Linked DNA regions of Homo sapiens. The protein of the gene in region 4 purifies or fractionates together with the protein of the main gene of each other region. This does not show direct contact. Each region holds a gene or a part of one and is shown on either strand. Other genes may lie near its edges. The genes, in order: SLC17A5, TBCEL, ARHGAP19, RASA3 and SPTB.

Region 1 (6,399 bases), on a different chromosome or scaffold from region 4:
ACTTTTCTTTCTTTATTCTTTTTTTTTTTTTGAGTTGGAGTCTCGCTCCATCGCCCAGGCTGGAGTGCAGTGGCGTGATCTTGGTTCACTGCAACTTCCACCTCCCAGGTTCAAGTGATTCTCCTACCTCAGCCTCCTGAGTATCTGGGATTACAGGCGCCCGTCACCACGCCCAGCTAATTTTTTGTATTTTTAGTAGAGATGGGGTTTCACCATGCTGGCCAGGCTGGTCTCGAACTCCTGATCTCATGATTCGCCCACCTCAGCCCCCCAAAGTGCTGGGATTACAGGCATGAGCCACCGTGCCCGGCCGCTTCGCATTTTTCTTTTGCAGGTTGCATGCCAGCCAATATTCCTCTGTGCTGGGAAGGGAAAGTTTGAGGATGTATCAAGACCATAGCAGTGGATCTCACTGCTCTTGCCTACTCAGGGCTTTATCTACACATTGATAGCCCCTCAGAGGAAAGGCACCAGCCGAAGAGTCGACACTGGCTCTGGGCTTGGATGCTGCCTCTGATAAACGCTGGGCACTCTGACCCTGAAGCCAGGGAGGGAGTGCTTGGCAGCTGCCTGGGCACACTCCCCTCAGTCCAGTTGCCAGGCGAAATTATACAGTGGATGGCAGCTCCACAGAGATGCTAAAGTTTGAGGTCTAAGTGTCAGAGAGAGCTGACAATTTTTATGAGGAAAGTGAACAACAACAGGTGTTTATCAGTACCTGAGAATTATCATCTAGTTTAATTAAGCAAAGGTATCAGGAGGTCTGTTTCAGCTCATTCCCTTTAGTATGGCCCTAAAAAATCAACAGAACTGTCCTACTTCATGTTGCCCGACTAGCAGGCAGGTATGTGAACCTAAAGTAGAAGTCCTAGCTTACATATTATTCATAATTAAACACAGTTCATTTTATTATTCTGGCAACTAGTGATATTTCATGATTATAGGCCTTAAAAATCTAATACAAGTACAATTAAAAAAAGACATAGAATGCTTACACAATACAGAAGGCACTTTGAGGTTACATGATAAATAAAAATACATTAATAGAGGCAGGATTATTTATTGGTTCCTTCAGTGTCTGTGTCCATGGTGATCATTGAGAGCCCAGTTTTGTACTTCACCTTTGGCGAATAGTGTAAAGAAAATGGCACCAAAAACATTAATAGCAGCAGCAATATAGAACACGGTTTGCCATTCTCCAACAGTGTTCTATAAAGGAAGACAAAAAATGCAAGTGAAATAAAATTTTGTGTGTAGTTCACTTCATTAAAAAGATAGTGTCACAAGAGTGTTAAAACAGCCACATTATTCATAAAAGCCTCATCCTTGAAACAACCCAAATGTCCACCAGCAGTAGGATAGTGGTATATTTGTTCAACGTAATACAATACAGCAATGAGAATGGGCTACAACATCATAAATACAGCTCACAAACAAAATATGAAGCAAAAGAAGCCAGACAAAAAAGGTACATACTAAATTATTCCATTTATATAAAGCCCAAAGTCAGACCATACTAATCTATGGGGTTAAAAGTTGGGAGAGTGGTTCCACTTGGTGAGGGTGAAGGAAAAATAGGAGGAAATGGTACCTGGGGTCTTACTGAGGGAGGTAATATTCTGTTTCTTGATTGGGTGCTGGTTACACAGATGTATTAACTTTGTGGAAATTCATCTAGCTGCACACTTTAGATTAGTGCATTTATTTATTTTTGTTTTTATTTTTGAGACAGAGTCTCACTCTGTCACCCGGGCTGGAGTGCAGTGGCGCAATCTCGGCTCACTGCAGCCTCCACTTTCTGGGCTGAGGCAATCCTCCCAACTCAGCCTTCCAAGGAGCTGGGATTAGAGGTGCATGCTACCATGCCTGGCTAATTTTCTTTGTGTGTGTATATATATGTATATATATACGTATATATATACATATACATATATATATATATACGTATATATATACATATACATATATATATATATTTTTGGTAGAGATGGGGTTTCGCCATGTTTCCCAGGCTGGTCTTGAACTCCTGGGCTCAAGTGATCCACTCGCCTCAGCCTCCCGCAGTGATGGTACTACAGGTGTGAGCCACCACGCCTGGCCTGGATTTGTGCATTTAAAAAAAGTTATACTTCAATAAAAAGTTTACTGAAGATAGATAGATATACTTCAATAAAAAGTGTACTGGCATGTCCCTGAATCATGCCTAACACTAACTAACACTAAGAAAGTCTTATGCCTGTGCACGGTCTCCTGGGTTCTCAGGTGAAAGGTGTCAGGTGGATCAAGTAAATACTGTTAAGATGAACTCAAGTTCAGCTTTGAGGATCTGTGACATCAGAGAGAGGCCTGGCAAGTATAAAAGATCTTGAATGGCATACAAAGCAGGATATAACATGGGATCTGTCAGTAAGACAACTGTTCAGTGTATAACCCTGTGGCATAAAAATATCAGACAGTTATCTAAATTTCTGGGTCATGTGACTACCTTTAACAACCATTTTTTGGATTTTTTCAATTTCAGTCTAACCAGAGTGGTGACTACATTTGCAGCATTAACTAAGAAACACACGGCCGGGCGTGGTGGATCACGCCTGTAATCCCAGCACTTTGGGAGGCCGAGGCGGGCGGATCATGAGGTCAGGAGATCGAGACCATCCTGGCTAACATGGTGAAACCCCGTCTTTACTAAAAAAATAAAAAATTAGCCGGGCGTGGTGGCTGGTGCCTGTAGTCCCAGCTACTCGGGAGGCTGAGGCAGGAGAATGGCGTGAACCTGGGAGGTGGAGCTTGCAGTGAGGCTGAGATCGCTCCACTGCACTCCAGCTTGGGCAACAGAGCAAGACTCCCTCTCAAAAACAAAACAAAACAAAACTGGTTGGGCGTGGTGGCTCATGCTTGTAATCCCAGCACTTTGGGAGGCTGAGGTGGGTGGATCACCCGAGGTCAGGAGTTCAAGACCAGCCTGGCCAACATGGCGAGACCCTGTCCCTACTAAAAATACAAAAATTAGCTGGGCGTGGTGGCAGGCTCCTGTAATCCCAGCTACTCGGGAGGCTGAGGCAGGAGAATTGCTTGAACCTGGGAGGCGGAGGTTGCAGTGAGCTGAGATCATGCCATTGCACTCCAGCCTGGGGAACAAGAGTGAAACTCCGTCTCAAAAATAAATAAATAAATAAACCAGGCCAGGCGTGGTGGCTTACGCCTGTAATCCTAGCACTTTGGGAGGCCATGGTGGGCGGATCACGAGGTCAGGAGATGGAGACTGTCCTGGCTAACAAGGTGAAACCCCGTCTCTACTAAAAAGACAAAAAATTAGCCAGGCGTGGTGGTGGGCACCTGTAATCCCAGCTACTTGGGAGGCTGAGGCAGGAGAATGGCGTGAACCCGGGAGGCGGAGTTTGCAGTGAGCCAAGATCGTGCCACTGCACTCCAGCCTGGGCAACAGAGTGAGACTCCGTCTCAAAAACAAAACAAAACAAAACAAAAAAAACCAAGCAGGCCAGGCATGGCGGCTCATGCCTGTAATCCCAGCACTTTGGGAGGCCGAGGTAGGTGGCTACCTTGAGCCCTGGAGTTTGAGACCAGCCTGGGCAAGGTGGTGAAACCCCATCTTTACAAGAAGTAGGAAAATTAGCTGGACATGGTAGTGTACATCTGTAGTCCCAGCTACTTGGGGGGCTGAGGTAGGAAGATCACCTGAGCCTGGGGAGGTTGAGGCTGCAGTGAGCCATGATTGCGCCACTGCACTCTAGCCTGGGCGATGGAGACCCTGTCTCAAAAAACAAAGAAACAAACAAACAAACAAAAAACCCAAACAAACAAGCAGTAGAACTAGCAATGAGGAAGTGAAAGAGAAGGCACTGGGAAGCCAGTATGAGGTCATTTATTTGGGAAAAAAGGAGAAACATGAAGAAAGAAACACCCTGTGGTGGCTATACTTGTCTGAGATGAGTGCATTTTAATGAAAAAAAATCTTAGATACTCATCTTAAATTCTGCTGAGGAATCAGTCAATAATTACATCTTATACCAGAAAGAAATGTTTGAAACAGCTTCTTAGGATTACTAAGACAAAGCTGCCCTGTGTGGTCTCTGGGACAAAATAATACTTCAGTGTTATCTGAAGGCAATGAGTGAACTTAAAATCAATCGTTGTACTACAAGTCTCACACAGCTCCTAGTTTGTTTTTTAACAAAAATTCCACCAGTTTTTAGAGAATACTGTTTTGTTTATAACAACATTGAACCTCAGACACACTTTGAATTTTAATTATTGCATTATTTATTTATATGCTGACTCATTCCACAAAGTTTTTGAGGCAGTGCTCAAAGTAAGAAATTACAGGCTGGGCGCGGTGGCTCATGCCTGATATCCCAGCACTTTGGGAGGCTGAGGCGGGTGGATCATTTGAGGTCAGAAGTTCGAGACCAGCCTGGCCAACATGGTGAAACCCCATCTGTACTAAAAATTCAAAAATTAGCCGGGTGTGGTGGCACGTGCCTGTAGTCCTAGCTACTTGGGAGGCTGAGGCAGGAGAATTGTTTGAACCTGGGAGGCGGAGGTTGCAGTGAGCTGAGATCACGCCACTGCCCTCCAACCTGGGGGACGAGTGAGACTTCATCTCAAAAAGAAGAAAGAAATTACAATTGTGAAGGTAAGTGTGTGCTTTTCCTTTTTAAAAATAATATACTTTAGAGTTTTATTTGGCCGGGTGCAGTGGCTCACTCCTGTAATCCCAGCACTTTGGGAGGCCGAGATGGGCGGATCACCTGAGTTCCAAACCAGCCTGACCAACATGGAGAAGCTCCGTCTCTATTAAAAATACAAAATTAGCTGGGCGTGGTGGCACATGCCTGTAATCCCAGCTATTCGGGAGGCTGAGGCAGGAAAATCGCCGGAACCCGGGAGGCAAAGGTTGTGGTGAGCTGAGATTGCGCCATTGTACTCCAGCCTGGGCAACAAGAGCGAAACTCCGTCTCAAAAAAAAAAACCAAAAAACACACACACACACAAACAAAAAACAAAAATTAGCAGGGCATGGTGGTGAGTGCCTGTAGTTCCAGCTACCTGGGAGGCTGAGGCAGGAGAATCGCTTGAACTTGGGAGGCAGAGGTTGCAGTGAGCTGAGACTGCACCACTGTACTCCAGACTGGGCAACGGAGTGCGAAACTTATTTTATTTTGTTTATTTTTTTATTTTTATTTTTTATTTATTTTATTTTTTTGAGACAGGGTCTCCCGCTCTCACCCAGGCTGGAGTGCAGAGGCATGATCATAGCTCACTGCAGCCTCAAAACCCTGGGCTTATGCATCCACCTGCCTCAGCCTCCTAAGTAGCTGGGACTACAGGTACAAACCACACCCAGCTAAAACAGTGATATCCTTTTAATAGCATTAAACAAATGCTGTAACATATCCCAAATCAAGCGCAGTTCCCACTTGTAAACATACAAGACTGTAATTCAGGAATCCATATTTCCCTAGCAGAAGTGCTGGCATTATCAGTAAGTGAAATGAACACATGGTAGTGAGCTGACTTAGGTTCTGGTGTTGCCACCCTGCTCCATGAGGACAAGGTTAAACATTTTGGACATGTCCATATTGAGACACAGAACTTTAGAAAAAGCATTTCTACAACATTCCTTTTTATTAAGTGAGAGGAAATAGTAACAGGTACCGTGTCACTTAAGGAATTAGAAATGGTAGATGTGGAGAAGAAGTAGGAACACTATCTGTCGGATATATGTCTGAAATCAGTATATTTGGTAATAAGAAAGTCTGTAAGTATGTCCTGAAATTCTTTTTTTTTTTTTGAGACGGAGTCTTGCTCTGTTGCCAGACTGGAGTGCAGTGGTGATGTTGGCTTACTGCAACCTCCGCCTCCTGGGTTTGAGCGATTCTTGTGCCTCAGCCTCCTGAGTAGCTGGGACTACAGGCACCTGCCACCACACCGGCTAATTTTTGTATTTTTAGTAGAGACGGGGTTTCACCATGTTGGTGAGGCTGGTATTGAACTCCTGACCTCGTGATCCACCTGCCTCGGCCTCCCAAAGTGCTGGGATTACAGGCATGAGCCACTGCACCCGGCCAATATCACAACTTTTAACTACTTGTGTGGTTTCAGCTACAGTGTCTTCATTTGACTTAGTTCAATTGTTTTGTCTAAAATCCAAAAACTGTTCTTTGAAAATATACTTTCCCATCCATTAAGGCATTTAGCTTTTTGTTGCTAAAAAGAATTTCATAAGAACATTTAGAATTTTAAACTTAATTAAAATACACTGAACTTTGACACAGATGTGCAGCTCCAAAACCTTTCCAGTTTACAAGTAAATTATCTACTTACATCAGGGGTCAGACTTTTAGCAATGACGGGCCCAACCATTCCTGGAATAGTGGC
Region 2 (6,399 bases), on a different chromosome or scaffold from region 4:
CCTAATAAAAGTAGGAAATATAACCACGAACACAGTTACCAGATTTAACAAGGGCATAAAATAGAGAAATTTAAGAAAAGCTTACCAAAACTAGGTTATGGATAGGTTTTTCTTAAACAAGAAATCTGTCTTAGGATTTGTATAGCATTCAATATCTACTAAGTGTTTCAATGATTAATTTTATCGGCAAGCCTACCTTATGGATAAGCAAACTAAAGCTCTAAAGGATTAAGTAAATTTCTTAAGATCACAGGAAAAGTTGGAACAAGAGGTCTTGATTAATCCTTAAGATATAATCATTTAATCATTAACGCACTCAACAAATATTTGACTACTTGGTATGCTGGGCTTATGATAAAAAAAAGATAAAAATCTCCACTTGGAATAAGCTCATAGTCTATTAGGAAAACTGTCAAGTAAGCAAGTCATTATACAAGACTGTGATAAATCCTTTCACAGTGGTATAGTGTAGGTGCTCTGCGATAATCTGACTCTGTCTGTGAGACAGCCAGGGAAAATTTCACAGAGGAATAGCAACTTGGGCCAAGTCTTGAAGGATAAATAGGAAGTGGCCAGGTAGACAAGAAAAGAAAGAGAGCAGTGGGTTCAGAATGAATAAAAGCAAGGAAGCTTTTTATTTTGAGTTTATCATGAGCTGCAAGTAAAAGTATATGGCTAAAGAGGGAGAAAAAGTTCTAGAAATAGCAAAGGGCCATATGATGAAGGGTCATGCTTATAGAGTCAGACTTTAGTTTCTAGGCAAAGAAAGGCAACTGTAGGCCTTTATGCAGGACAGTGTCATAATCATGAGTCATATATTAAAAGGAGTCTGTGGTAGCACTACGGAAGACAGCTTAGCAGAAACAGAATAAAGCTGGATCCAGGAAAACCCATTAGGAAAGTCTTCCTAAAGTCAAATCAAAAAATAAGAGCCCAAATTAAGGCAGAAGAATGAACCAAGTAGGAAGAACATTTTAACCTTCTTCTTCAGGGTAGCTCCTATCAGGTAATGTTATAAGCAGGTAGGTAATGTTACATATAATAATAAGAGAATGTTACAAAACTGTATTTGTGTACTTTTACAAACTATGTGTGTAGTTTATAGTTACTCTGAGGTCAAGACATCAGTTATGTCAAACCACCCAAGGGATTTGATAATATAAGAAAAGTTGTAAAATATTTGAATAAATTTCAATAACAAGAATAAATATATTTATATATATTCTCAGTTTCAACAATTTTATGTCAATTTTCAGTAATAAATATTGAAGTAGAAGTAGAGAATGAGCATAAGATGTATAAATTAGTGAAACAGTAGAAAATTTAATGCACTGTTAGCAGTTTAAGCTGACAAAGACTAATCAACCTCTTGATGCCTAAATTTCCTTAGTGATTGATGAAAACAAATGAACAATGAAAAATAAATTAACAATAACAAAGCAACAATAACAATAACAAAGCTAACGAAAAATCACCATAGATAGAGTCAGTTATTTGCCTTTTTTTTTTTTTTTTTTTTTTAAATTAAAGATGGGTTCTTGCTATGTTGCCCAGACTGGTCTTGAATTCCTGGGCTCAAGTGATCCTCCTGCCTCAGCCTCCTTAGCACTGGGATTATAGGCCTTATTTATCTTGATATAAAGACATACAGACAATAAGATATACAGACAACAAGAAGTCATACAGACATCAAGTGAGAACAGAATTTAGCAGAACATATAATAACATAAACAATGACACAATGGTTATTGCTGCTTTTCACTAAAATGTAGCAATATAAAAACTTCACCTCATGCCAGTCTTCGAGTTTGTTGTCAGAAAGATCTAGTTCCGACACATGAGCGCAGAAAGCAGCAATTTCTTTTTCATCTCCTGCACAGGTTATTCCACAGCTGTTCAACACTAGTACACTTGGGAGGTTGAGGCGATCTGAATGATGAGAGACACAAAATGTTTTCTATATCAGCCAAATTCTTGTCTACATATGTTCAGCCCCCAGGAAGTGTCAAGAAACAAAAATCAAACTGTGTGAAATTACATAAGGATCTAGAAAATACAGGATATAATGGGACCAAAGGGTACTGAATCCTAAGAGGAGACAGCCAGTTATTGCCCAGGAGGAGTTCAGAAGTACTGCACCCGTACCACCAAAAAAAGTCCTCTAGGCTTTAACTCATAGCAGGATTGTTTATCTCAATTACCAACAACAGAGCCCTCATCCACGCTATCATCTTATCATCTGAACAAGAGATCCATGAAATTCATGTGTGGACTACCAGTACTTTCTTATAGGCCTCAATTCTTTCTTTTTGAAATTTAGTTCCAAAGTATTCTGGATGGCTCTTTTCTCTCTATCTGATGTGTATCTTTATCTTTTGTGCCTCTGAAAATCATCTCAAACCATTAATCTACTAAATCACTTCTGTTAAGTTTACATCATTCAAGAAATCTTCCTCACTTAAGTGGATCCATTCAGAACTCTACATCTCTCTCTCTTGTCTATCAATTATCTCCATTTCATATCCCTACAGAATTTGTCCCTTATGAAAATTAGCCTTCTTTAAAAATTTAACTGTAATGGAAGAAAGTGTTTCAGTCTTAAACTATTAACATTGAATTTGGTCAAACTGAGGTAACAACTTTTTGACTACTGCCTGGTTCAAAAACACATGTGTCAATAAAATCACTCTTACAATCTCTACTAAAAAGGATAAACATGAGAATGCAACCACTCTTTTCCCATTTGGTATAAAACAAGGACTCATCAAGGTAGTACTTTATTAATGGAGACCTCAAATTACATGGTTTTCAACTTGCTACTTTCAGCAACATATTTATCACAGTGGGAATGGATCCCGGAAAAAAAAAATTACCAAGTAAGAAATCCACTTCTCTCTGCCATTCCAGGTTACATAGAGATAAAATTATTGTATTTAGAAACAGCAAACACTCAGTAACCTTTGAAAGTAAGAACTAAAACAGTGACTCAATATTAATCCCCCACAATTACAAAAAACTACTTCCAAGAACTGTTAATGGCAACATTAAGCTAAAAGACAAGCAAAAATATACCTTGCACACTTCTAGTTACAGATTTTTGCTCACATCTAATCCCTCTCCTAGAATGTATCTCATCTCTAACCAAATTCTACATTCTTGAAGAACTAGTTAAAATCTCACAGCTTTGAATCATTTCTTGATCATATTAATTATCTTTTAAATTTCTTTCCAAATCACTATACCATTCATTTGGCTCAACATAAATTGTCTTGTGTTTATTTACCTTTGTAAATGTGAATGTCTTGTAAACCAATTAGGCTATGAGGTCCTGGAGGGCACAGGCCAGTCCTGTACTGTTTTGTACCCTCTATGTTCCATAAAAGAATATGCATTTGAAATATTATCACTCAAATATTATTCCTGTCATACACATGCAACTAAAACATCTCTTAATCAATCTGGAGGAAAACCAGTCCTGTTACGTTCTTTAGAAAACTGAAATCATAACAAGGGGGAAAGACTATTTGACTGTAATTAAAAATAAAATAAATCATTTGCAAACAAGGCAACACTGTGATTTAACATCCTAAGTAAGCTCCACTAAATAAGTGTTTTAGGTCCCATCTTTCTTACCTTTCATAGGAGAGCCCTGAGGTGTGGCTGGGACATGGACTCCCATCCCCGGGCCACGGCGATAAGGAAAATTTTCAGGACTATATTTTTCACATAATACTTGCATGAAACTTCTTCCACTAGGTTGATCCATCTTTCTTTCTTAAAATGCTACAAGAAACCAAGAAATAATCAAATTATGTAATTATGTATTTACTCACATAAGAAGTATTTATTGAAAACCCATTATGTATAAAGTACTAGACTAGGCATTGCAAGACATATGATACTTAGTTACTGACCCCAGAAACATATACTGTGGTGACAGCTTACAATTTAGGGAAGCTACATATACAAATGACAGCAATAACAGTTGAGCATATATCTGCAATACAGATGAAAACTATTACAAGATTTAGAAGAGGAGTTGATCACTTCCAACCAAGGGCAATGAGAAGGCTTTTGGCTGGTACATAGGATTCATGTGGATAAGTAATTGAAGAAAGGTCTGAAAAAGAAGGTACAGATTGAACATCAGGCTAAACAGTTTGGATGAATCCTTTAATATCTGTCCCTAAAATCCATTATCTTCTTCCATAGTAAAAGAACCTTTAACTGGATAACTGGATAACTGTATTTGGGAATGAGTGCTGGCTAAGTTCTAGCTCATGGGCTAGAAACCAAGTATTCTGTGGCAGCTTCTAAGAATCATCGTTAAAAGATGACCAGAGTGTGCCACTTGCCCTCCTTTGTTTCTTCCTCCATCTGTTGCCTAGAAAACTGATGCCACCAGACAATGAACCCAAGGAATATACACTAAGAAAAGTGGGACGAATTGCTGAAAGGGCTCTGCATCCCTGAGGACTTCATGTAACTGAGCTGCCATACTGGTACATATCTCTGGAAATTTCAATGACAGATAAGTAACCTATTTTGCTTAAGCCATTGTTCTTCTCAATTTTTTAGTTACCTATAACTGGACCTAATCCTAAATAATACAAAATGTCATCTCTTTTGGTTCTGAGTTTGGGTAGAGTCCTTTCTGTTTAGCATCAGCTAAGGGTCCAAACACTGAATGATTCCAGCATCTGAGACGATGAGTACTGAGAAGGACTCATGCATACATTAAAACAGGTAATATTAAACAACACGCTAACTTCTAACAACCTGATAACTCATTACTTAAGGGGCTGGCCTATGATGCATATTAATCAAAATATAGGCAGCTAAAATTGACCTCTGTAATTTCAACTATTAGGTATCAGGCTTTTTTACTAAAATAATCAGTAGGGAGAAGGATATACAGGCTCTGGAGTACTCAGAGAAGAAGGGATATCATAAGAAAAGGAACTGTAGTCAAAATGTATTATGGTATATATGAGTAAGCACAAAATATCTGATGTTGCCAAAGCAGCCTGGCAATGGTAGACATTGTCAGGAGCATCTAACTAGGAGCCTCAGAGGAGATCTTGTATACCACATTAGGAGGTTTAATGTTATCCTACAGGAAACGGAAAAAACTGAAAGGTTTTAAGGAAGGGAATACAACAACGAAGTTTTAGGGAAAACTCATCCTGAGAATCATGGAGCTGATGAATATGCAGGAAACAAGACTGAAGGCTGGGAGAAGAGTTAGGAAGATACTGCAAAAATACAGCAGAGAGATCGTGAGAGCTTGAAGTGATTCACTGGTAGAATAAATAGAAAGCAGAGGCAGATTCACGATCATGTTAAAAAGCAAGCTATTCAGAAATTACAGGGGCTGAGGGAGAAGGTAAAGTCAAAAATGACTCCCAGGGTTTCTAGTTCAGGTGACCAGGTGACTGGTGATACCATTAACTAACAAGAAAGCAGGAACAGAGCCAGTTTTACAGAAGAAAATGATGAATTCCACTTTATACGTGTTCAATTTGAAGTGCCTGTGGAACATCCAGGGAAACAATCTGGAGTTGAATGAGAAAAATGAGCTAAAGATGAAGATTTGGACACCATTACGATATATAAAATTTTATGAATAAGGACAATAAGACAATAGTCACTGATATTTAAGGGACAGGCAGAGGAAACAGAGTCATGAAGAAAAAGAAAGAAAACAGCCAGACAGTAGAGTGTTTAGCCAATATTTTGAGAAGTTTTGCTGGGAGTGGAGAAGGAAGATGGGATGATAAGAGAGTAGGGAATCCAGGCAACTGTCAAGATTTTATATCTTAAAATAGGAAAGACCCAAACATGGTTATAGATTACAAGGGAGAAGCCAGTAGCCCTGAAGAGGCTGAAAAATCACCACCCGTACTTTTTCCTAGAAGAAACTAGCAGGAACAAGCACCGAAAAGCTTCTCAGAAGGCTGTTTGATATTAGCCAGATAATGCTTCAAATTGCTTCCAATTAGTGGTGACATATTTACTTCACTATAGTTACTGGTTTACTTTTGCTTATATTGTTTAATTATAATGAACGTTAGGTATTTTTCTTATGTGGTTATCCTATCTCTACCATTACATTATAAAGGGTAGTGGAACTGTGTAATCCTATTTCTTTCAGTATCAATTCATAGCATCAGGCATAGTTTATTATACATGGTAACGGTTTGATAAACGTTGCCGAGTATTAAAATCGCTAGCCTCTCAGGTGCTGAGAAGAAAGGGCAGAGAATTCAGGATGAAGGGCAGGTTTACGCCCACCCAGTTCTGACTACATAATAGTTTTGTGCCATCAGGCAAGTCACTGTTATCTCAAGTGTCTTCAACTATAAAATAAGGTATTAACGTCTCTACTATATGGATTAC
Region 3 (7,104 bases), on a different chromosome or scaffold from region 4:
TATTAACTCCAGAGCCCATGTAACTACTGTGCTGTATTTTCCCAAACATTATATAAACATGTGATTTGGCCAGGTGTGGTGGCTCATGCCTGTAATCCCAGCACTTTGGGAGGCCGAGGTGGGTGGATCACCTGAGGTCAGGAGTTCGAGAGCAGACTGGCCAATATGGCAAAACCCTGTCTCTACTATAAATACAAAAACTAGCCGGGTGTGGTGGTGGGTGCTTGTAGTCCCAGCTACTCGGGAGGCTGAGGCAGGAGAATTGCTTGAACCTGGGAGGCGGAGGTTGCAGTGATCCGAGATCATGCCACTGCACTCTTGCCTGGGTGACAGAGTGAGACTCTGTCTCAAAAAAAAAAAAAAGGTGCGATTCTTCATTAAAAAAAATGAACCAGAAATATAGTTTTGTGGCGTTCCTCCTAGTTGCAGTGGTAATACTTTAAAGTTTTGAACAGTTTTTCTTTTGTGAAAGCATCAATTTCATTCAATCCATCAGTCCATGTGCTGGGTGTCATGGGGCTAGAAACAAAACTAGTTCTTATTTTGAGGGAAGGGCAGAATTTGAGCCTTGGGTTCCTTGCTTTGTATATATAGCAATTAACACAACCTGGATTTTCTTTTCTTTCTTTCTTTTTTTTTTTTTTTGAGACATAGCCTCAACCTATTGCCCAGGCTGGAGTGTAGTTGCACGATCTCGGCTCGCTGCAACCTCCATCTCCTGGGTTCAAGTGATTCTCCTCCATCAGCCTCCCGAGTAGCTGGGATTATAGGTGTGTGGCAACACGCCCGGCTAATTTTTGTATTTTTAGTAGAGACAGGGTTTCACCATGTTGCCAGGCTAGTCTGGAACTCCTGACCTCGGGTGATCCACCCGCCTCAGCCTCCCAAAGTGCTGAGATTACAGGTGCGAGCCACCTCGCCTGGCCTTTTTTTCTCTTTTCTTTTCTTTTTGAGACAGTCTCACTCTGTTGCCGAGGCTGGAGTGCAGTGGCACATGATCTTGGCTCACTGTAACCTCCACTTCCTGGTTTCAAGCGATTCTCCTGCCTCAGCCTCCTGAGTAGCTGGGATTACAGGTGTGTGCCACCATGCCCGGCTATTTTTTTGTATTTTTAGTAGAGATGGGATTTCACCATTTTGGTCAGGCTGGTCTTGAACTCCTGACCTCAAGTGATCTACCTGCCTCGACCTCCCAAAGTGCTGGGATTACAGGCGTGAGCCATCACACTTGGCTTCTTTTTCTTTTTTTGTTTTTTGTTTTTTGTTTTTTTGAGACAGGGTCTTGCTCTGTCAGGGTGGAGTGCAGTGGCATGAACATGGCTTGCTGTAGTCTCAATCTCCTGGGCTCAAGTGATCCCAGCCTGGATTTTCTAAGGCTGTCTGAGGTTCAATGAAAAATTTCACTGATACGTTTGCTAAATTTTATGTTTCTTTCCATGTATTTGCTCAATAAACATGATTTGTTAAACATCAAACTAAATAAGACTGGGCATGGTGGCTCACACCTGTAGTCCCAGCACTTTGGGAAGCCTAGGTGGGTAGATCACTTGAGTTCAGGAGTTCGAGACCAGTCTGGCCAACGTGGCAAAACCCATCTCTACTCAAATACAAAAATTAGCCAGATGTGGTGGCACACACCTGTAATCCCAGCTACTTGAGTGTCTGAGGCTGGAGAATTGCTTGAACTCGGGAGGCAGAGGTTGCAGTGAGTGGAGACCATGCCACTACACTCCATCCTAGGCAACAGAGTGAGACTCTGTTTCAAACAAAAAACATAAAAAACATCAAACTAAATGCAATTTTATTTGGACACATTTATCAAACTTTTATTTTCTTTTTTAGAGAAAGGGTCTCATTCTGTCGCACAGCCTGGAGTTCAGTGGCACAATCATAGCTCACTTTAACCTTGAACTCCTGGGCCCAGGTGATCCTCCTGCCTCAGCCTCCAAAAGTGATGGGATTATGGGTGTAGGCCACTGTGCCTAGCCCTTATCAAACTTTTAGTATTAATTCATCAATTGAAAAAAATCTATTAGAGTATATGATTTGATTTTTTATTTGGATATAATAGTTTGAGGACTTGCTTATATTTTTCAAAAATATTTATTGGACAGCCATTATGTGCCAGAAACTGTGGGGAGCAAAATAAATATAGTCTCTGCCCACTTGTGGCAGGAAGCCTAGCTGGGAACCCTCACATGAAATAAATAGTCACACAAATGACTATGTAATTGTGAGTTGTGATATGAACTGTGAAAGAATAGTACAGAGTTCTTTGTGAAAGTTTACTGAGGGAATTGATTTATACAATGGGGGTCATGGAAGATCTTTGAGCCAGTGACATTTAAGCTTCGACCTGAAAGCCAAAAAAGTGGAAAAATGGACGAGCCAGAAAAAGCAACATGTGCAAAAGCCCTAAGACAGTTCAGAAAGTGAAGCATGTGCAGTACAGTTTAGTAAAAAGGAGGCAGAGTGCAGGGAGAGCCCCAGGTGGCAGGATATCAGAAGGATCAATACAGAAATTCCCGAGAAAAGTCCAGCATAGGAAAACAATATGGAAAAACAAAAAACAACAATGCTCAAAATTTACAATGTTCTCACATATGTTGCCTCAGTTAATCCCTAGGAGAAGTGTGTGCCGCAGGGAGGACAAGGATAATTATGGTTATTCCTACCATTGAGGATTAAAGTTTAGTTTGGGACAAAGTCATGCAGCTTTTGGTTCCATGGTTCATATCACAAGGCAAACTCTGTGGGTTCTCTGGGAAGTTGGAAGGGAGTGAATGTATTGAAGCAGAAATGACCGACTCCAGCCTGGCCAACAGGGTGAAACCCCATCTCTACAAAAAGTACAAAAATTTGCCCTGTGTGTTGGTATGCTGCAATATTGTACTGTGCTCCAGCATGGGAGACAGAGGGAGACCTTATCTCAAAAAAAAAAAAAAAAGAAAGAAATAAAGGAAGAAAGAAATGACCTATGGCTAGGGCTATGCTGAGTATCTGAAGAAAGAAGGCTTTGAACTATACGTTTAAAAGCAAGTACTTCTAGGTTGCCACTCCCTGCCTGCACTTGAGGGATTTATCTCTGGGTCAAGACAGAGAACGAGTCTTGCATTAAATTACATTAAATTAAATGAATTAATTTATGGCTGGGTGCAGTGCCTCATGCCTGTAATCCCAGCACTTTGGGAGGCTGACATAGGAGGATTGCTTGAGCTCAGGGGTTCGAGACCAGCCTGGGCAACATGGTGAAACCCTGTCTCAACAGAAAAAAAAAATTAAAAAAATTGTAAAAAAAAATTATTTATTTTCAACTTTTATTTTAAATTTAGGGGGTACATGAGTTGGTTTGTTATCTGGGTATATTGTGTGATGCTGAGATATAGGGTACGGAGTCTTGCATTTTAGAAAGTGATGAGTCACTTTCAAAGTTGACAGTTCTATAATTCCCTGATTTACATATCAGGACAAAATTTGAGCATAGGCTGGTGATTTCTGACTTGAACCTAAAGGTCTGTGGAATCGGAAGGGTTCATCAAAATGAGAAACTACAACTCCCGGCAGGCCTCGGGGCTGGGTCTTCTTCCCCGCCCCTCCCTCTTTTTCCGCCAGGGCTGGGAACGACCAATGACGGTTAGTCATTTGAATAGACCAATAATATATTAAACGGTTCAGGTTGAGGAGGGGCGGTCGAGTCATCCAATCGCACGGAAGAGGTGAAAACATATTAGCCAATCCAAATATGTGGGGGCGGGACGTAAGGTGGGGCGGTGAAAGAAGTTTGCTGACGAAGATGGCGACTGAGGCACAGAGTGAAGGGGAGGTGCCAGCCCGCGAATCCGGCCGGAGGTGAGCTGAGTTTGGTCCAGTTTCCTGGGAAACGCGGCCTTGGGCTGGTAGTCCTGCCGCCTTTGCCTTGGGTCACGGAGGCGCACGGTTCGGGCTTTGTTTCTTTCTCCCACGGCGTTTCTCATCGTCGCGCCTGCGGGGGCTGAGGCGCGGGGGTCGGGCCTGGGCGCTGGACTCCAGCCAAACCCCCCGCTCGGTCCTGCCGGTGCCCGAGGGGGCTCCTCCCGCTGCGCTGGCTGCAGACGTCCAGCTGGGGGTGGCAGCGCTGATCGCTTTGGCGCCGAGACACCTCTTGATGGCGAGGAAACGGAAGTCCAGGGCTGGTTAGCGAATTCCTCACTGTTGCACACAGCGCTTCACATCTTCTCCGAGGCACTTTGTGCGTTCAGGTCCGAGCAAGGATTTGAGTGTCAATTAGAAACAGTGTTGAGTCCTTGGGCCAGTTTTTAAACCTCTCTCGACTTCAGTTTCTTCATCTGCAAAGGGACGTGAGGATGCCTATTTCCAAGTGTCAAGATTGAATAAGACAATCCATTTAAAGCTAGCACTGAGTTTAGCCGATAATGACAACTCTACGCAATAGATTTTCTTCTTCCTAGTAGAACAGCTAAGGAGCAGATGGGAGAGGGATCTGTAGTCCAGGACATCATGACTTTATTTCCACAGGATGTTCTTTCCTAAACAGCCACACCGAGATTTAGCGTTTTCAGGAGAGAATTTCGAGGTGGTGTTGCCTTAGCCTTGAGACCTAAGTTGTCTTAATTGATTACAATTTTGTTTTTGGTGTAATTCAATAGATTGAGTTTATTTACGTTGCCTCAGTGTAACTCAGTAAAATACTTCGGTTTGGCGTCTTTTGGTTCCATTTGTACCGAATAAGAGATTCCAAGAATCTTGGGAAACTAATAACTTTGTGACTCGGCTTCTTCCTGAGCCCAGATGAGCGTGGTTGAGTGTGTTATTTAAAATATCATACGGGGCCGGGCATGGTGGCTTACGCCTGTAATCCCAGCACTTTGGGAAGCCGAGGGGAGCGGATCACCTGAGATCAGGAGTTCGAGACCAGCCTGGCGAACATGATGAAAGCCCGTCTCTACTAAAAATACAATAATTAGCCGGGTGTGGTGGCGGGCGCCTGTAGTCCCAGCTACTCAGGAGGTTGAGGCGGAGGTTGCAGTGAGCCCAGATGCGCCATTGCATTCCACCCTGGGTGACAGAGCAAGACTATGTCTCAAATAAATAAATAAAATAAAATATGATATGGAAGAGTTTTCCACTCTTTTTTGTTTTGTTTTGTTTTTGTTTTGCAGTTGCAAGATTTCATAGAGTGAAATAGAGTGAAAACACAGCTCCCACACAAAGGGAGGGGACCCAAAGTGGGTGGCCGTTGCTGGCTCTAATGCCTGGGTTTATATCCTGATCCTTGTCCCTCCCGCTGTGCTCTCAGGCAAGAGATGATTGGCTATTTCTTTACCTCCTGTTTTTGCCTAATTAGCATTTTAGTGAGCTCTCTGATTGGTTGGGTGTGAGCTAAGTTGCAAGCCCCGTGTTTAAAGGTGGATGCGGTCACATTCCCAGCTAGGCTCAGGGATTCTTAGTTGGCCTAGGAAATCCAGCTAGTCCTGTCTCTCAGTCCCCCTTCTCAACAGGAAAACCCAAGTGCTGTTGGGGAGATTGGCCGATGACCGCCCTAACTGCTTCCTGCTGAATTGGGGCGTAGTAGGGGTTGTGCAGTTGAGATTTCCTCGGGAGGGTTGCCTTCGATGTCATTAACATCGGAGCATGGGCTAGCAGGCTGTTCCAGGGGTCCGCGGTGGATCTTAGTCATAGACTGCATCTGGGGCTCCATTTGAAGAATGATTTGTAGTTTTACAGTTTCAATTCTGGAAGAGACAAACGCTTTGGATGCCCCTTCGTGGTCACCAAAATGTTACCGGGGGTCCTTGCTCACAGAGCTCCCAAGATGGTGGCCAGCCGCTTCTAAGATGATGGCGGGCCGCTTCCAGGATGGTGGCAAGCCTAGTGTTCTCTGACCTGGGGTTCTCAGCCTCACCGATTCCAAGGAATGGAATCTTGGGCCATGGGGTGAGTGTTACAGCTCTATTAGAAGCTGTGGGTCACGGAAGAGAACCGTGGAACCCAGTGACTGGTGTTCAACTTGATTAGGACGAACCCAGGCACTTAGCCATGCAGGAACAATGGCAAGCCTTTAGCACGATCGGGAGTGGCAATGGGAGTCTCACTGGATCAGGAGCACAGCAGACACCCTGCCAGATCCGGAGGGATGGGAGTCAGCAGCGGGATGGGAGTCAGCGGCGGGTCTGCGACAGCGGCAAACAGCAGTGGTAGAGGGCGAGCAAAAGCTCAGCTCCAGCCATAACAAACATAGACCAGAAGAGTGCAGTTGCAAGATTTAATAGAGTGAAATAGAGTGAAAACAGAGTTCCCATACAAAGGGAGGGGACCCAAAGGGGGTTGCCCGAGTTTTCCACTCTTGAAGCTGCCTATAAATGGTTGATCATTTTTTTTTTTTGCCCGGGAACTGTAGAGGTGATTGATACATTTGATTAGATCATCCTTCATCCAGTTCTTTAAAAATTTCTAAATTTTGGTGAAAATCTGAGGACAAATAAAATACTATTCCATAGCAAGAGTAGTTTGAATTTATTTTCTTTTCTTTTCTTTTTCTTTTCTTTCTTTCTTTCTTTTTTTTTTTTTTAACACAGGGCTCCTTCTGTTGCCCAGGCTGGAGTGCAGTGATACGATCACAGGTCCCTGCAGCCTCAACCTCCTGGGCTCAACTGGTCCTCCCTCCTCAGCCTCCTGAGTAGTTGGGACTACAGGCACGTGCCACTATGCCCAGCTAGTGTTTTTGTTGTTGTTGTTGTTTTGTTTTTTTGTAGAAACCGGGGTCTTGCCATGTTGCCCAGGGTGGTCTTGAGTTCCTGGCATAAGTGATCCTCCTGCCTTGGGCTCCCAAAGTGCTGGGATTATAGGTGTCAGCCACTGCGCCTGGCCTGAATTTCTTTATAGTATATTGCCAGTTGAATTTAAATTTTCAGTGAGAGTATTAGTTAATTACATGATCAGTAGGTATTCACATAATCGTACCTGAACCTGAAACCATTTCATCAATTCCATATTGTAAAAGAGAAGTGGGCCAGGTGCGATGGCTCACACCTGTAATCCTAGCACTTTGAGGCTGAGGCGGGTGCATCACCTGAGCTCAGGAGTTCCAGATCAGCCTGGGGAACA
Region 4 (6,399 bases):
TGGAGGTTGCCCCCACGCACCGCGTTCCTGACTGTGGGGAGGAGCAGAGCCCTGGGGCCTGGATATTCCCCCCACGCACCGCGTTCCTGACTGTGGGGAGGAGCAGAGCCCTGGGGCCTGGAGGTTGCCCCCACGCACCGCGTTCCTGACTGTGGGGAGGAGCAGAGCCCTGGGGCCTGGATATTCCCCCCACGCACCGCGTTCCTGACCGTGGGGAGGAGCAGAGCCCTGCGGTCTGGATGTTCCCCACACACCGCGTTCCTGACCGTGGGGAGGAGCAGAGCCCTGCGGTCTGGACGTTCCCCACGCACCGCGTTCCTGACTGTGGGGAGGAGCAGAGCCCTGCGGTCTGGACGTTCCCCACGCACCGCGTTCCTGACTGTGGGGAGGAGCAGAGCCCTGGGGCCTGGAGGTTGCCCCCACGCACCGCGTTCCTGACTGTGGGGAGGAGCAGAGCCCTGGGGCCTGGATATTCCCCCCACGCACCGCGTTCCTGACTGTGGGGAGGAGCAGAGCCCTGCGGTCTGGACGTTCCCCACGCACCGCGTTCCTGACTGTGGGGAGGAGCAGAGCCCTGCGGTCTGGACGTTCCCCACGCACCGCGTTCCTGACTGTGGGGAGGAGCAGAGCCCTGCGGTCTGGACGTTCCCCACGCACCGCGTTCCTGACTGTGGGGAGGAGCAGAGCCCTGCGGTCTGGACGTTCCCCACGCACCGCGTTCCTGACTGTGGGGAGGAGCAGAGCCCTGCGGTCTGGACGTTCCCCACGCACCGCGTTCCTGACTGTGGGGAGGAGCAGAGCCCTGTGGTCTGGATGTTCCCCACGCACTGCGTTCCTGACTGTGGGGAGGAGCAGAGCCCTGCGGTCTGGATGTTCCCCACGCACCGCGTTCCTAACTGTGGGGAGGAGCAGAGCCCTGCGGTCTGGATGTTCCCCACGCACCGCGTTCCTGACACTGAGTCTGCAGCCCCAGGGCTCCACGACTGCAGCCTAGAGTGAGTCCGGCCACCACACACACTGAGGTGGGACGCGCCCTCATTCGGGGGGCTCAGACACAGAACAAGATGGGCGAGGGCCCCGTTTTGGCCCCAAAGGCAGTCACGCCAAAGAGTTTACCAACTGTGGGAGGAGGTGTCCCAGGACTTGGGACAAGGCTGTCTGGACAGCGCTGTGAATGCACCGAACGCCTTTATTGTTTAAAATCGCTAATGGCCAAGTCTGTGTCATGTGGGTTCTATCTCAATTTTAAAAGAGAACTCCGTCTCCTGAGCACGGCACACGGGCGGTCGGAGGGTGAGTCGATACTTACGTTCTTCACCGCATCAGCATATTTCTGCTCATTGAAGAATTCATAAAATGTAGCCATGTAGGACTCCTTAAAACTCGCCTAAAATGAAACGGAGATCACTCGAGGACAGCCCGAAGTACCTCGGCTCACGGCCCAAATCTGAAAAAGCTAGAGGCAAGAACTGTCCAAGCCTAAATGACGATAAACAGGCAAAGAACCCGGTGTTACCGGGCAAGTGAGAGCCCGCAGGGCTGCCCGGAGGACGAATCACATAAATCGCTCAGGCGCCAACGAAGACCATCAGACCTGCCAGTGCCCGTGAGGTCTCCAAGCACCCTTTGGCATCAGTGACTCCGTCCTGGCCCCGGGCTGTCCCTCACACCTGGGTCCCAGGCTCATGAAGAGGTACGTTGGGGCCCAGATGTGGCTGCCTGGGAACCTGGAGTCATAGGCCAGGGTCCCAGAGCCCCCACGCCCATCTCTCGCCCGTGGGGCATAAGGGCCGCTCTGAGGTGGGAAGAGGGGGCAGGGACCTCCATCACACGGGGAAGTGGAGGCACCCAGGGATTCGGGGGGGCCTTTGCAGCCACCATTCCTGAGGCTCGACCCCAAGTTCCTGTTGTTTCCACACTGAGGTCACTGCACAGTTCCCTGGCTGTGAAATGAGGTGGGTTTGGTGCAGACCTCGGAGGAGGCTCAAGTGCCTGTTATGGAGTTTCCAGCCCACAGCGCAGGGCCTGGCTGGTGGGAAAGAGCGGTCGGTGCACCTCGGCCTGCCTGCGAGTGTGGCACATCTTTTACTCACTCGGACTCAGAGAAACCCAACGTTTGCCCCAAGCGGGCTGCTCCTCCAGTGGGGGCCTCTGCTCCCCAAAGCCCTCATTTCTACCTGGGCCCCACCAAGAACAGGGAACCAGGAGGCCTGGGCATCTGTGCACCACAGCCCAGCCCTCTCCAGACGGAGCCCCGAGGGGGCCCGAAGGCATCGAACTGCCCTGGCCTGGCCCCTGCAGAGACAGCCTTGGGCCTCACCAGGAGCACTGCCCCCGGGACGCCTCAAACGTCAGCTCTGACCCCCTCAAACACACAAGGTGCTCTTAGGGGGAAATGGGGCAGATGCCTGAGGGACTCCTGACCTGGTGGCACCAGATCCAGTCTGAAGGGACGAGGATGGAGGACGGAGGTTCATATCCACAGGGAGAGAGGGGCCCTGGGAGGAGGGGGCCGCGTGGGGAGGGGAGCGCCACGTTGGGAGGAGGCGGCCGCTTGGGGAGGAAGCGCCACGTGGGGAGGAGGCGGCTGCGTGGGGAGGGAAGTGGGGAGGAGGGGGCTGCATGGGGAGGTAGTGCAGCATGGGGAGGAGGGGGCCATGTGAGGAGGAGGGGGCCGCGTGGGGAGGTGGGGAGGAGGGGGCCGCGTGGGGAGGAGGGGGCCGCGAGGGGAGTAGGGGGCTGCGTGACGAGGAGCCTCCAGCACCGCAACGCCCAGGAGGCGCCAGGTTAGGCCATCTGCCTGGCCTGTTCAGCCGCTTCCCACACCTGACAGGTCAGATGCTGCTCCTGCCACGGGGCCGGCGACGAGCCACAGGCTCCCGAAAAAGGCAAGGGGTTCACTTTAGGAGGGGAGAGGTGAGCGGGACGGGGACGCTCAGGTCCTGGGTTTCAAGAGAGGATGTGGTGCCGGCTTTGATTCTTGATCTTTATCTTACGACTCTCTCAAATGTGGGAGGTTTTTCACGTGTATTTTCTGAAGAGAGAAAAGAATCAGTTGTCCCTAAAAAGAGAAAATGAAGAAGAGGGACTCACAGATTTGGACTTGGACAGGCTGCCGAGGGTCTGAACGGTCTTGGAGATCAATGTCAGCGTCCTGGACGTCTGGGGGTCCTGGGGAGGCGGGAGCAAGAAAGGTCTATGTCAGCATCACAGAAATGCTGTGACTGTCCCAGATCGAGGGGACGAAATGCAGGAGTCACCTCAGAGCTGCTGTGGCTTGTGCATGAGCTACGGAGAAACAGGGGTAGCGACGCAGATGGGACTGGAGGGGGTGGGCGTCCCACAGTCTCAGGAGCTGCTGAGACCATCCCGCAGGCAACATCCGACGGCACCGCGGTGACCCACTCTCTCGGCCCAGCGTGCAGGGTGCATCTCAAAGTCGAAAGCATCAGGTGGGGTCATGGCTCTGGGGCGCTGAGTCTCGGGGTGCTGAGTCTCCTGGCCCTGCCTGGGGCTCATCTCAGCCTTCACAGGGTTTGAAGGTTCAACTCAGAAGTGCTGGGGGCCGGGCTTGGTGGCTCACGCCTGTAATCCCAGCACTTCGGGAGGCCGAGGCAGGTAGATCACTTGAGGTCAGGAGTTCGAGACCAGCCTGGCCAACATGGTAAAACCCCATCTCTAATAAAAATACAAAATTAGCTGGGCGTGGTGGCGCACGTCTGTAATCCAAGCTACTAGGGAGGCTGACGCACGAGAATTGCTTGAACCCAGGAGGCAGAGGTTGCAGTGAGCTGAGATGGTACCACTGCACGCCAGCCTGGTGACAGAGCAAGACTCTGTCTCAAAAAAAAAGAAGTGCTGGGGAATGGGCAATCCCTCACGTCCTCTCGCCCTGGCCATCTCCTTCCAGCTCTGCCACCCGCACGTGCAACACGGTCACCCCAGATCCCTGTACCCTGAGAGCTGCGGCCCCAGCAACCACATTGGGGCCTGGAGAAAATCAGTGCTAAATAGGAATCTGTTGACTCAATACACGGATGATACGCCGATCATCAATACTCCATATGTGATGGGCAGGGGAGGAGAGCAGGGCGGTGACCAGCAGCTAAAACCCTGGACAAACCGTCCACTGCTTTTGTGACACTGTCTCGACTCCCCCAGAACGTACACAGCTTAAATAGGTCGGTGAACCACCTGCAACGAGGACGTTCCAGGACCCAGCGCATCCACCAGCACTCCCCACGCACCGTCCACACACTCCACACACACTCCACACGCACTCCCCATTCCACACACCTTCCACACTCCCCGTGCACCGTCCACACACTCCACACACACTCCCCATTCCACACGTCTTCCACACTCCCCACTCCCCATGCACCGTCCACACACACTCCCCATTCCAAACGCACTCCCCACTCACTCATTACACACACTCCCCACGCATTCCACACACACTCCTCATTCCATGCACACTCCCCATGCATTCCACACACACTCCCCATTCCACACACACTCCTCATTCCACGCACACTCCCCACTCACTCCTCATTCCACACACACTCCCCATTCCACACGCCTTCCACACTCCCCACACACTGTCCACGCACTCCACACACTCCTCATTCCACACACACTCCCCATTCCACACACACTCCCCACTCACTCATTCCACACACACTCCCCATTCCACATGCCTTCCACACTCCCCACGCAGTCCACGCACTCCACACACTCCTCATTCCACAAACACTCCCCATTCCACACACACTCCCCACTCACTCCTCATTCCACACACACTCCCCATTCCACATGCCTTCCACACTCCCCACGCAGTCCACGCACTCCACACACTCCTCATTCCACAAACACTCCCCATTCCACACACACTCCCCACTCACTCCTCATTCCACACACACTCCCCACTCACTCCTGATTCCTCACACACTCCCCACGCATTCCACACTCCACACGGTCGGCCCCCTACAGCCACGCAGATGCCCCAACCCAGGCCGGCGTCGCAGGACAGCTCAGAAAGCCTCGGTCCCTCAGCCGGTCACTCACCGTGTGGTGCGGCGTGAGCTGGAAGAGGTTGGGGGAGAGAATGGCGGGCGCAAAGAACCTCAGGAAGATGAAGCTGCTCACTGCAGTGTACCTGACGTCCGGGTCATCTGCGGGAGAGAGAAGCAGGGTGACCGTTTTCCTCGGGCACAATGGCCTCGTGGGGACACCATGCCCCGGCCCCCTGAGGGTCCGCAGGGAAGTCCAGCCACAGTCCTGGCTCTATCTCCACCTGTGTCTGTCTCTCTCCCTCTCTCTGTTTCCCTCTCTCCCTCTCTCTGTTTCCCTCTCTCTCTCCATCTCTCTGTCTCTCCCCCTTTGTCTCTCTCCCTGTCTCTCTCCGTATCTCTGTCTCTCTCTCTCTCCCTCTATTTGTCTCTCTCTCATCTCTCTGTCTCTCTCCCTCTCTTTGTCCCTCTGTCTCTCTCCCTATCTCTGTCTCTCTCTCTCTCTCTCCGTCTCTGGCTCTCTCCCCCCCTCCATCTGTCTCTCTCTCTCTCCATCTCTTTGTCTCTCTCCCTCTTTGTCCCTCTCCCTGTCTCTCTCCCTATCTCTGTCTCTCTCTCTCTCTCCCCCTCTCTCTCTCCGTCCGTCTGTCTCTGGCTCTCTCTCTCTCTCTCCATCTCTCTGTCTCTCTCCCTCTCTGTCTCTCTCCCTAACTCCATCTCTCTCTCCCCGTCTCTTTCTCTCCGTCTGTCTCTCTCTCCATCTCTCTGTCTCTCTCCCTGTCTCTCTCCCTATCTCTGTCTCTCTCTTTTTCTCTCTTTCTCTGTCTCTCTCTCTCCGTCTCTCTCTCCCTGTCTCTATCTCTCTGTCTCTCTCTCTCTCTCTCCGTCTCGATCTCTCTCTCCATCTCTCTCCGTCTGTCTCTGTCTCTCTCCATCTCTCTCTCTCCGTCTCTATCTCTCTCTCCGTCTGTCTCTGCCTCTCTCTCCGTCTGTCTCTGCCTCTCTCTCCGTCTCTCCCTGTCTCTCTCTCTCTCTCCTTGTCTCTCTCTGTCTCTCTCCTTCTGTCTCTGCCTCTCTCTCCATCTCTCCCTGTTTCTCTCCATCTCTCATCACCACCACACAGCGCAGCCCCTTTGGTGTCTCATTCCACAGTGGTCTGTGCTCATCTGGGTGAGAGGATGTGTTTTATCTCTTCACTTCCACCTTGTTCAAAGTGGGTCTGGGGCTGGGATGTGCTTGGGAACTGCCTCCCCCAGAACCCTGGGCCCCTCGGCCGGCGCTGTCTGACTGTCTGATGTCCTGAGAATCAGGGGTGGGGACAGCGTTTGTCTCCTGGGGACACAGAAGCGTGGACGGCTCTGCAGGACCATGGCCACCCCGGGGTGTCTGC
Region 5 (5,461 bases), on a different chromosome or scaffold from region 4:
TGGCTCCTGCCTGCTGCAGTTGGTGTCACCCTGACATATAGTGTCAGGGCCACAGGGTGGAACTGATTTCTGCCGGCACTGGTCAGCACTCAGGGTTCCTCAGGGGGCCTCATTCTGGATGCCTGCCCCTGTGGCTTCTACCTGAACCTCACCCACTTCATCTCCATGGAACTAAGGTCCTTCTCACGGGGAAGGTGATAGAAACTTGACTGCAGGCCCTGGGGACTTTCATGGTTTCCTTGGGGGAAAATGCCTGCTGCCCTCCGCCCTCCCCCCCACCCCCGACCCGCTTGACTGCTCTCTTGGACCTAACCCTAGTTTGATACTGGGCCAGAACTGTGTTGCTTTCGGAGTAGAGTGGTGGGGAAAATATGGAATGAGCTTTCTCTTCCTCCAGAAGTATGACCTGAGCAGCAAGGGGAAGGCCATTCCTGGGGACGTTGGTTGCAGAGCTTCTGGTGCTCAGGGCTGGAGGGTGGTAGATATTTGACCTCTGTACTCATGTGACCCCCTCCCCGCCAAGACCTGGGGCCAGGACGTGGAGAAGCTGATCAAGGGGTACCACACCTTCATGGCTCTGGCCCTGACATTTGTCCCAGTTGTGCAGGAGTAGCTGTCACATGGGTGGTGATACCAAGACATGGCTGCGTCTGCCACCCCGAGAAAACAGATGATCAACTTTACTGTCTGCCCAGCCATTACCCTCCAAAGTCCCAGCTGCAGACAGGATGCAATTGAGCATTTGGCTTTGGGATGCTTTACTGCAGGTGCGGGGGGTATCCATCTTATATCTGGGGGCCCACACTGTCCCGTAGGGGGCCTATGTCTGTTGGATATTGCTGGTTTGGCTGCCACTGGGAGTGGGGCGAGGGTCCCAGCATTGAGAGGGAGAGCCTTAGGCAGTGTTGTGACGCACCTGTCACTCCTTCAGATCAGAGCCCTGTGCCCTAGCCACGGTTTTCAATGAGGAATGGTCTGACCTTGCTGCCCTTCCTGGGACCGCCTGTGGTGGCACAAAGGGTGCTAGAGGCACTCAGCCAGGCCCTGCCAACCGTGGGAGGGTACCCTTTGATCTGGGGGGAGAAGCAGAGAGGAGGGATGTGGTGGCCCCTGAAGTGAGAGTCCCAGTTCTGCGGAAGCCCAGTGGGAAGGAGGCTGGCAGCTCCCAAGGCCCTGCACCCAGTCTGGTCCCCTCAGCCCCCCAGAGCCCCTGGCCCAGAGCTAGGGCTTTGTGGGCCACCTGAAGGCTCCTTCCTCATGCCCCTAGGGGGCTGGCCATGCATTTCCAGTGTCTTCTTCCTTTCCCCTTTCCCTGGCTGCCACCAGGTGGGAGGTGACCCGAAGCAAGACTTGCTTTAGGAACGGGCAGCGTTTGAAGAACCCCATCAGCCTTCTCCAGCTCTTTTTTTTTTTTTTTTTTGGTTGGGGGTAAGGGGCCTGTGCCCCCTCGGCTCAGGAGGAGGGTGGGAGAGGAGGGCGTGTGCCTCAGAGAACCGTTTCCTGCCCCCAGGCCTGGAGGCCCCAAAGGCGCCAGAGGAGCTGGGAGCCCCTGTCCCTGGAGCGGAGCCAGCGCGGGCGAGGGCATGGAGGGGGCGTCGGCCCAGGACACGCGGGCGAAGGCAGCTTTTGCAGTGCAGCGTGGGGCCCGGGGGCCCGGCCCGCGACTCGACTCATCTCGATTCGACCGGCGGGCGGCGGCGAGAGGAGGCCAAGGCCTGGGCTGCCCGGTCTCTGCGCGTCCCGACTCCGCCGCGCCCGCCAGCCCCACCTGCTACTTCTTTTTGGGGAAGAAGCTGAATCTCTTCTCCTTGTCTTTCTTGCCGAGGCTGGCGTCGGGGCCGGAGAGGGAAGGCAGGGGCAGGCTCTGCGCCTTGACGCGGATGCTCTGGGACTCGTTGATGGCGGTGCTCACGCCCTGCAGCCAGGACAGCATCTCCTCCTGCGGGGCGGAGGGTCACGGTGGAGTCTGGAGGCCCACAGCCCCCCACCTCCCGGGCCAGGCAACAATGGTGGGGGCTCTTGGGACTGCCCCTTCTGAGGGGGCCTCCAGGGCAAGCGGCCTGGGGTCCTCCACCTACCCCCTTCTTAGCCAGGTCTGGGCTAGGCTGCCCGCGCTTACCTCATCCTTGCCATGGAAGAGCCACTCGCTGCCATTACTCAGCCTAGGAGGACAAAGGGTTTCCTGTCATGGAGACACCTCTGGAGGGGGCGCTGGGCAGAGGGCTGGCTCTGATCCCACAATACCCTGAGCCGAACATCCAGACCCCTCTCAGGCAGCCCAGCACTTTCTGAGAGGTCAAAGTCTGGACCATCAGCCTCTTTGATTTGAAAAACCCCTGAGGAGCAGCTCAGGCCTGGCACTGGTCCCCTACAGAGGGCCTCTGCCCTGCCACTAATGCCAAATCAAGCCATCAACCCGAGCTTTCAAAGGCCAGGAAGGCCTCACCTCAGCTTAAAGACGTGCTTCTTCTTCTTGTAGTTGGCAGCAATCTCACAGATGGCATGTCTCAGGGCCAGGGGTTCCTCCCCATGGTAGGGCATCCCCAGGGCCAGGTTCTTGGCATCCTTGTAGAAGGTTAGCTCACTGTTCCTGAGCACACAGTACAGGTTGTTCCAGGACCTGCAAAGATGCAGACAGGCAGGTCACCCACATCCTGATATGGTATCTCTAGAGTCAATTCCTATAGCTTCACCATTAAAAAAAATTACACCATGTTTGTTCTGATACATAGTAACATGTTTTATTGTTAAAAAATCATCTGCATGTAATTTCATTACAAAAAATTAGCTATTATTAACATTTTATGTATTCCTTCTAGTCTTCACATTTTCGCATTTTTTTTTTTACTAGTCACAGATAGCTAAAACTGGGTTATGGATATATTCAATTTTATATCGTGTTTCTAAGCATAACACTAAATCATGAGTATTTCTCCATATCCTCAAATATTTCTTTTTTTGCCAGGCAAGATGGCTAACACTTGTAATCCCAGCACTTTGGGAGGCCGAGGCGGGCGGACCGCCTGAGGTCAGGAGTTCAAGACCAGCCTGGCAAACGTGGTAAAACCCCATCTCTACTAAAAATACAAAAATTAGCCGGGCTTGGTGGCGCATGCCTGCAGTCTCAGCTACTCAGGAGGCTGAGACAGGAGAATCGCTTGAACCCGGGAGGCGAAGCTTGTAGTGAGCCGAGATTGAGCCACTGCACTTCAGCCTGGGTGACAGAGACGAGACTTAGTCTCAAAAAAAAAGTATATATGTAATATATATTTATATATACTTTTATTATATAATTTATATAATATTTACATATTTATTATATAACATATATACCTATTATGTATAATATATATTTATATGAAATATATAAATATATAAAATATGTATATTACATTATATATCATATACTATATAATACATATTTTATACATCATATAATGTATATTTTATACATTATATATAATACATTATATATTATACATTATGTTATATATTATATATGTAGCAATTATATATTATATAATATATAACATTTATAGTATATAACATTTATATATTATACATAATATATATAATATATAATATTTATATATAATATACATATTTTTAGACAGAGCCTCTGTCACTCAGGCTAGAATGCAGTGGTGCAGTCTCAGCTCACTGCAACCTCCGCCTCCCAGGTTCAAGCGATTTTCTTGCCTCAGCCTCCCGAGTAGCTGGGACTACAGGCGCAAGCCACCACACCCAGCTAATTTTTGTATTTTTAGTAGGGACAGGGTTTCACCACGTTGGCCAGGCTGGTCTCAAACTCCTGACCTCAGGCGATCCACCCACCTCAGCCTCCCAAGGTGCTGGGATTACAGTCCTGAGCCACCACGCCCGGCCCCTATCCTCAAATATTTCTTAAAATAATTTTGAATAGCTATGTGGAAGACTTTCACAATCCCTTTATTGATGAACCTTATAATACTGGAAAATGTGCCCATAATTTAAATAGCAATGTGATGAACATTCTTACACATAAATCTGTGCCTATAATTCTGATCTTACCTTGAAGTACACTTATAGAACTATTACGTCTTAAGACCAACAGTAAAAAATTAACTTTTTACAATATTTCTACATCCATCAGTGTATTTGATTCTCACTAAAGAACTGTGAAGGAATGAACAGGGTTTTGTTTCAGTGATTGTTTTCTGTTTTGATGAGATGTGCCAAGTATACTAAACTTTTTAAAGGAACAAATTTTACAAATAGGGCTCATGTCGGCCGGGCGTGGTGGCTCACACCTGTAATCCCAGCACTTTGGGAGGCTGAGGCAGGCGGATCATGCGGTCAGGAGTTCGAGACCAGCCTGACCAACAAGGTGAAACCCCATTTCTACTAAAAATGCAAAAAAAAAAAAAAAAATTAGCCAGGCGTGGTGGCACGTGCCTGTAATCCCAGCTACTCAGGAGGCTGAGGCAGGAGAATCACTTGAATCTGGGAGGCGGAGGTTGCAGTGAGCCAAAATTGAGCCAGTTCACTCCAGCCGGGGTGACAGAGTGAGACTCTGTCTAAACAAAACAAAACAAAACAAAACACAAAAAAAGACAAATAGGGCTCATGTCAACTGGCATGTTTGGTGAGGGAATCAAACTGATAACAGGTGGGCTAGCCCGAGCCGCTTCACTCACACGTGGGAAGCATGTTGCTGCATTTCTACAGCAACAGACTCTGTTTCCTCCTCCTCTTCATCCTCCTCTTCTGTCTCCCTCCTCTCCTCTCCCTCTTCTCCCTTACTTTTGAGGGCAGGAAGGTGGAGAAACTAGTAGGGCACATAGGGAGGAAGTTCTGGAAGGTCAGAGAGAGAAACTGACCCATACAAAGCTGGCTGCAAAGCCATTTTACGAAGCCCCATTTCTGACTCCGCGCTCAGGGATCTTTCCTCTGGCAGAAAGGCAGTTACTAAGAAGGAGCTGGGTCTTTGGAGAAAGAGCTTGCCTTGAACAAATGACTTAACCTTTCCGAGACTCTGTTATCCCCTTGGAAAATAGAAACATCAATGTCACAGGATTGTTGGGAAGATTTTATCAGTCCTAATATAATGCCTGGCACATAGTAGATGCTCAGTAAATGTTAGTTTCCCCTTTCTGGGTAGACTCTCCATTTAAGCAATAAATAAACCTCTTCAGGGCAATTGGGCCCCCAAATGGTTCCTTTTTGGAATTTGGAATCCCTTTCGTGAGTCCCCCAGACACATCCTGCATGCTCATGCTGCCAGCTGTCCCTGGGAATATGGCTGGCTTCAACCTCCTGGTGCTGCCCTATTTTCTTGGGACCCTGGACTGCTGCTAGAAAGAGGAGGCCCCTGGGGGCCCCAGGCAGAGACAGCCCTAGATAGACCAAACCCAAGGACATGACTGTTTCAGGGTCAGGAAAGGACGCAGCCTTTGAGTCAGTTCTCGGGGTCATAGAGTCA

What was found.
Region 1: the proteins of RASA3 (region 4) and SLC17A5 fractionate together in Homo sapiens (co-fractionation; one large-scale study listed by BioGRID). This does not show direct contact.
Region 2: the proteins of RASA3 (region 4) and TBCEL fractionate together in Homo sapiens (co-fractionation; one large-scale study listed by BioGRID). This does not show direct contact.
Region 3: the proteins of RASA3 (region 4) and ARHGAP19 fractionate together in Homo sapiens (co-fractionation; one large-scale study listed by BioGRID). This does not show direct contact.
Region 5: the proteins of RASA3 (region 4) and SPTB fractionate together in Homo sapiens (co-fractionation; one large-scale study listed by BioGRID). This does not show direct contact.

Annotation. Positions count from the first base shown.
Region 1 is NC_000006.12:73,594,006-73,600,404, forward strand, and holds part of SLC17A5 (sialin), read right to left. Parts: coding exon 6,346-6,399; intron 4,952-6,345; coding exon of another isoform or gene 4,854-4,951; intron 1,210-4,853; coding exon 1,072-1,209; coding exon of another isoform or gene 1,056-1,071; 3' UTR 1-1,055. UniProt on the Homo sapiens protein: Multifunctional anion transporter that operates via two distinct transport mechanisms, namely proton-coupled anion cotransport and membrane potential-dependent anion transport.
Region 2 is NC_000011.10:121,043,058-121,049,456, reverse strand, and holds part of TBCEL (tubulin-specific chaperone cofactor E-like protein), read right to left. Parts: intron 3,784-6,399; 5' UTR 3,767-3,783; coding exon 3,634-3,766; intron 1,930-3,633; coding exon 1,790-1,929; intron 1-1,789. Other genes in the region: TBCEL-TECTA protein, read right to left, coding at 1,790-1,929, 3,634-3,766. UniProt on the Homo sapiens protein: Acts as a regulator of tubulin stability.
Region 3 is NC_000010.11:97,289,317-97,296,420, reverse strand, and holds the start of ARHGAP19 (rho GTPase-activating protein 19), read left to right. Parts: upstream 1-3,783; 5' UTR 3,784-3,793; coding exon 3,794-3,849; intron 3,850-7,104. UniProt on the Homo sapiens protein: GTPase activator for the Rho-type GTPases by converting them to an inactive GDP-bound state.
Region 4 is NC_000013.11:114,008,078-114,014,476, forward strand, and holds part of RASA3 (ras GTPase-activating protein 3), read right to left. Parts: intron 5,172-6,399; coding exon 5,065-5,171; intron 3,172-5,064; coding exon 3,094-3,171; intron 3,035-3,093; coding exon of another isoform or gene 2,993-3,034; exon of another isoform or gene 2,578-2,992; intron 1,388-2,577; coding exon 1,310-1,387; intron 1-1,309.
Region 5 is NC_000014.9:64,747,535-64,752,995, forward strand, and holds part of SPTB (spectrin beta chain, erythrocytic), read right to left. Parts: intron 2,716-5,461; exon of another isoform or gene 2,621-2,715; coding exon 2,447-2,620; exon of another isoform or gene 2,163-2,446; coding exon 2,120-2,162; exon of another isoform or gene 1,940-2,119; coding exon 1,772-1,939; 3' UTR 1-1,771.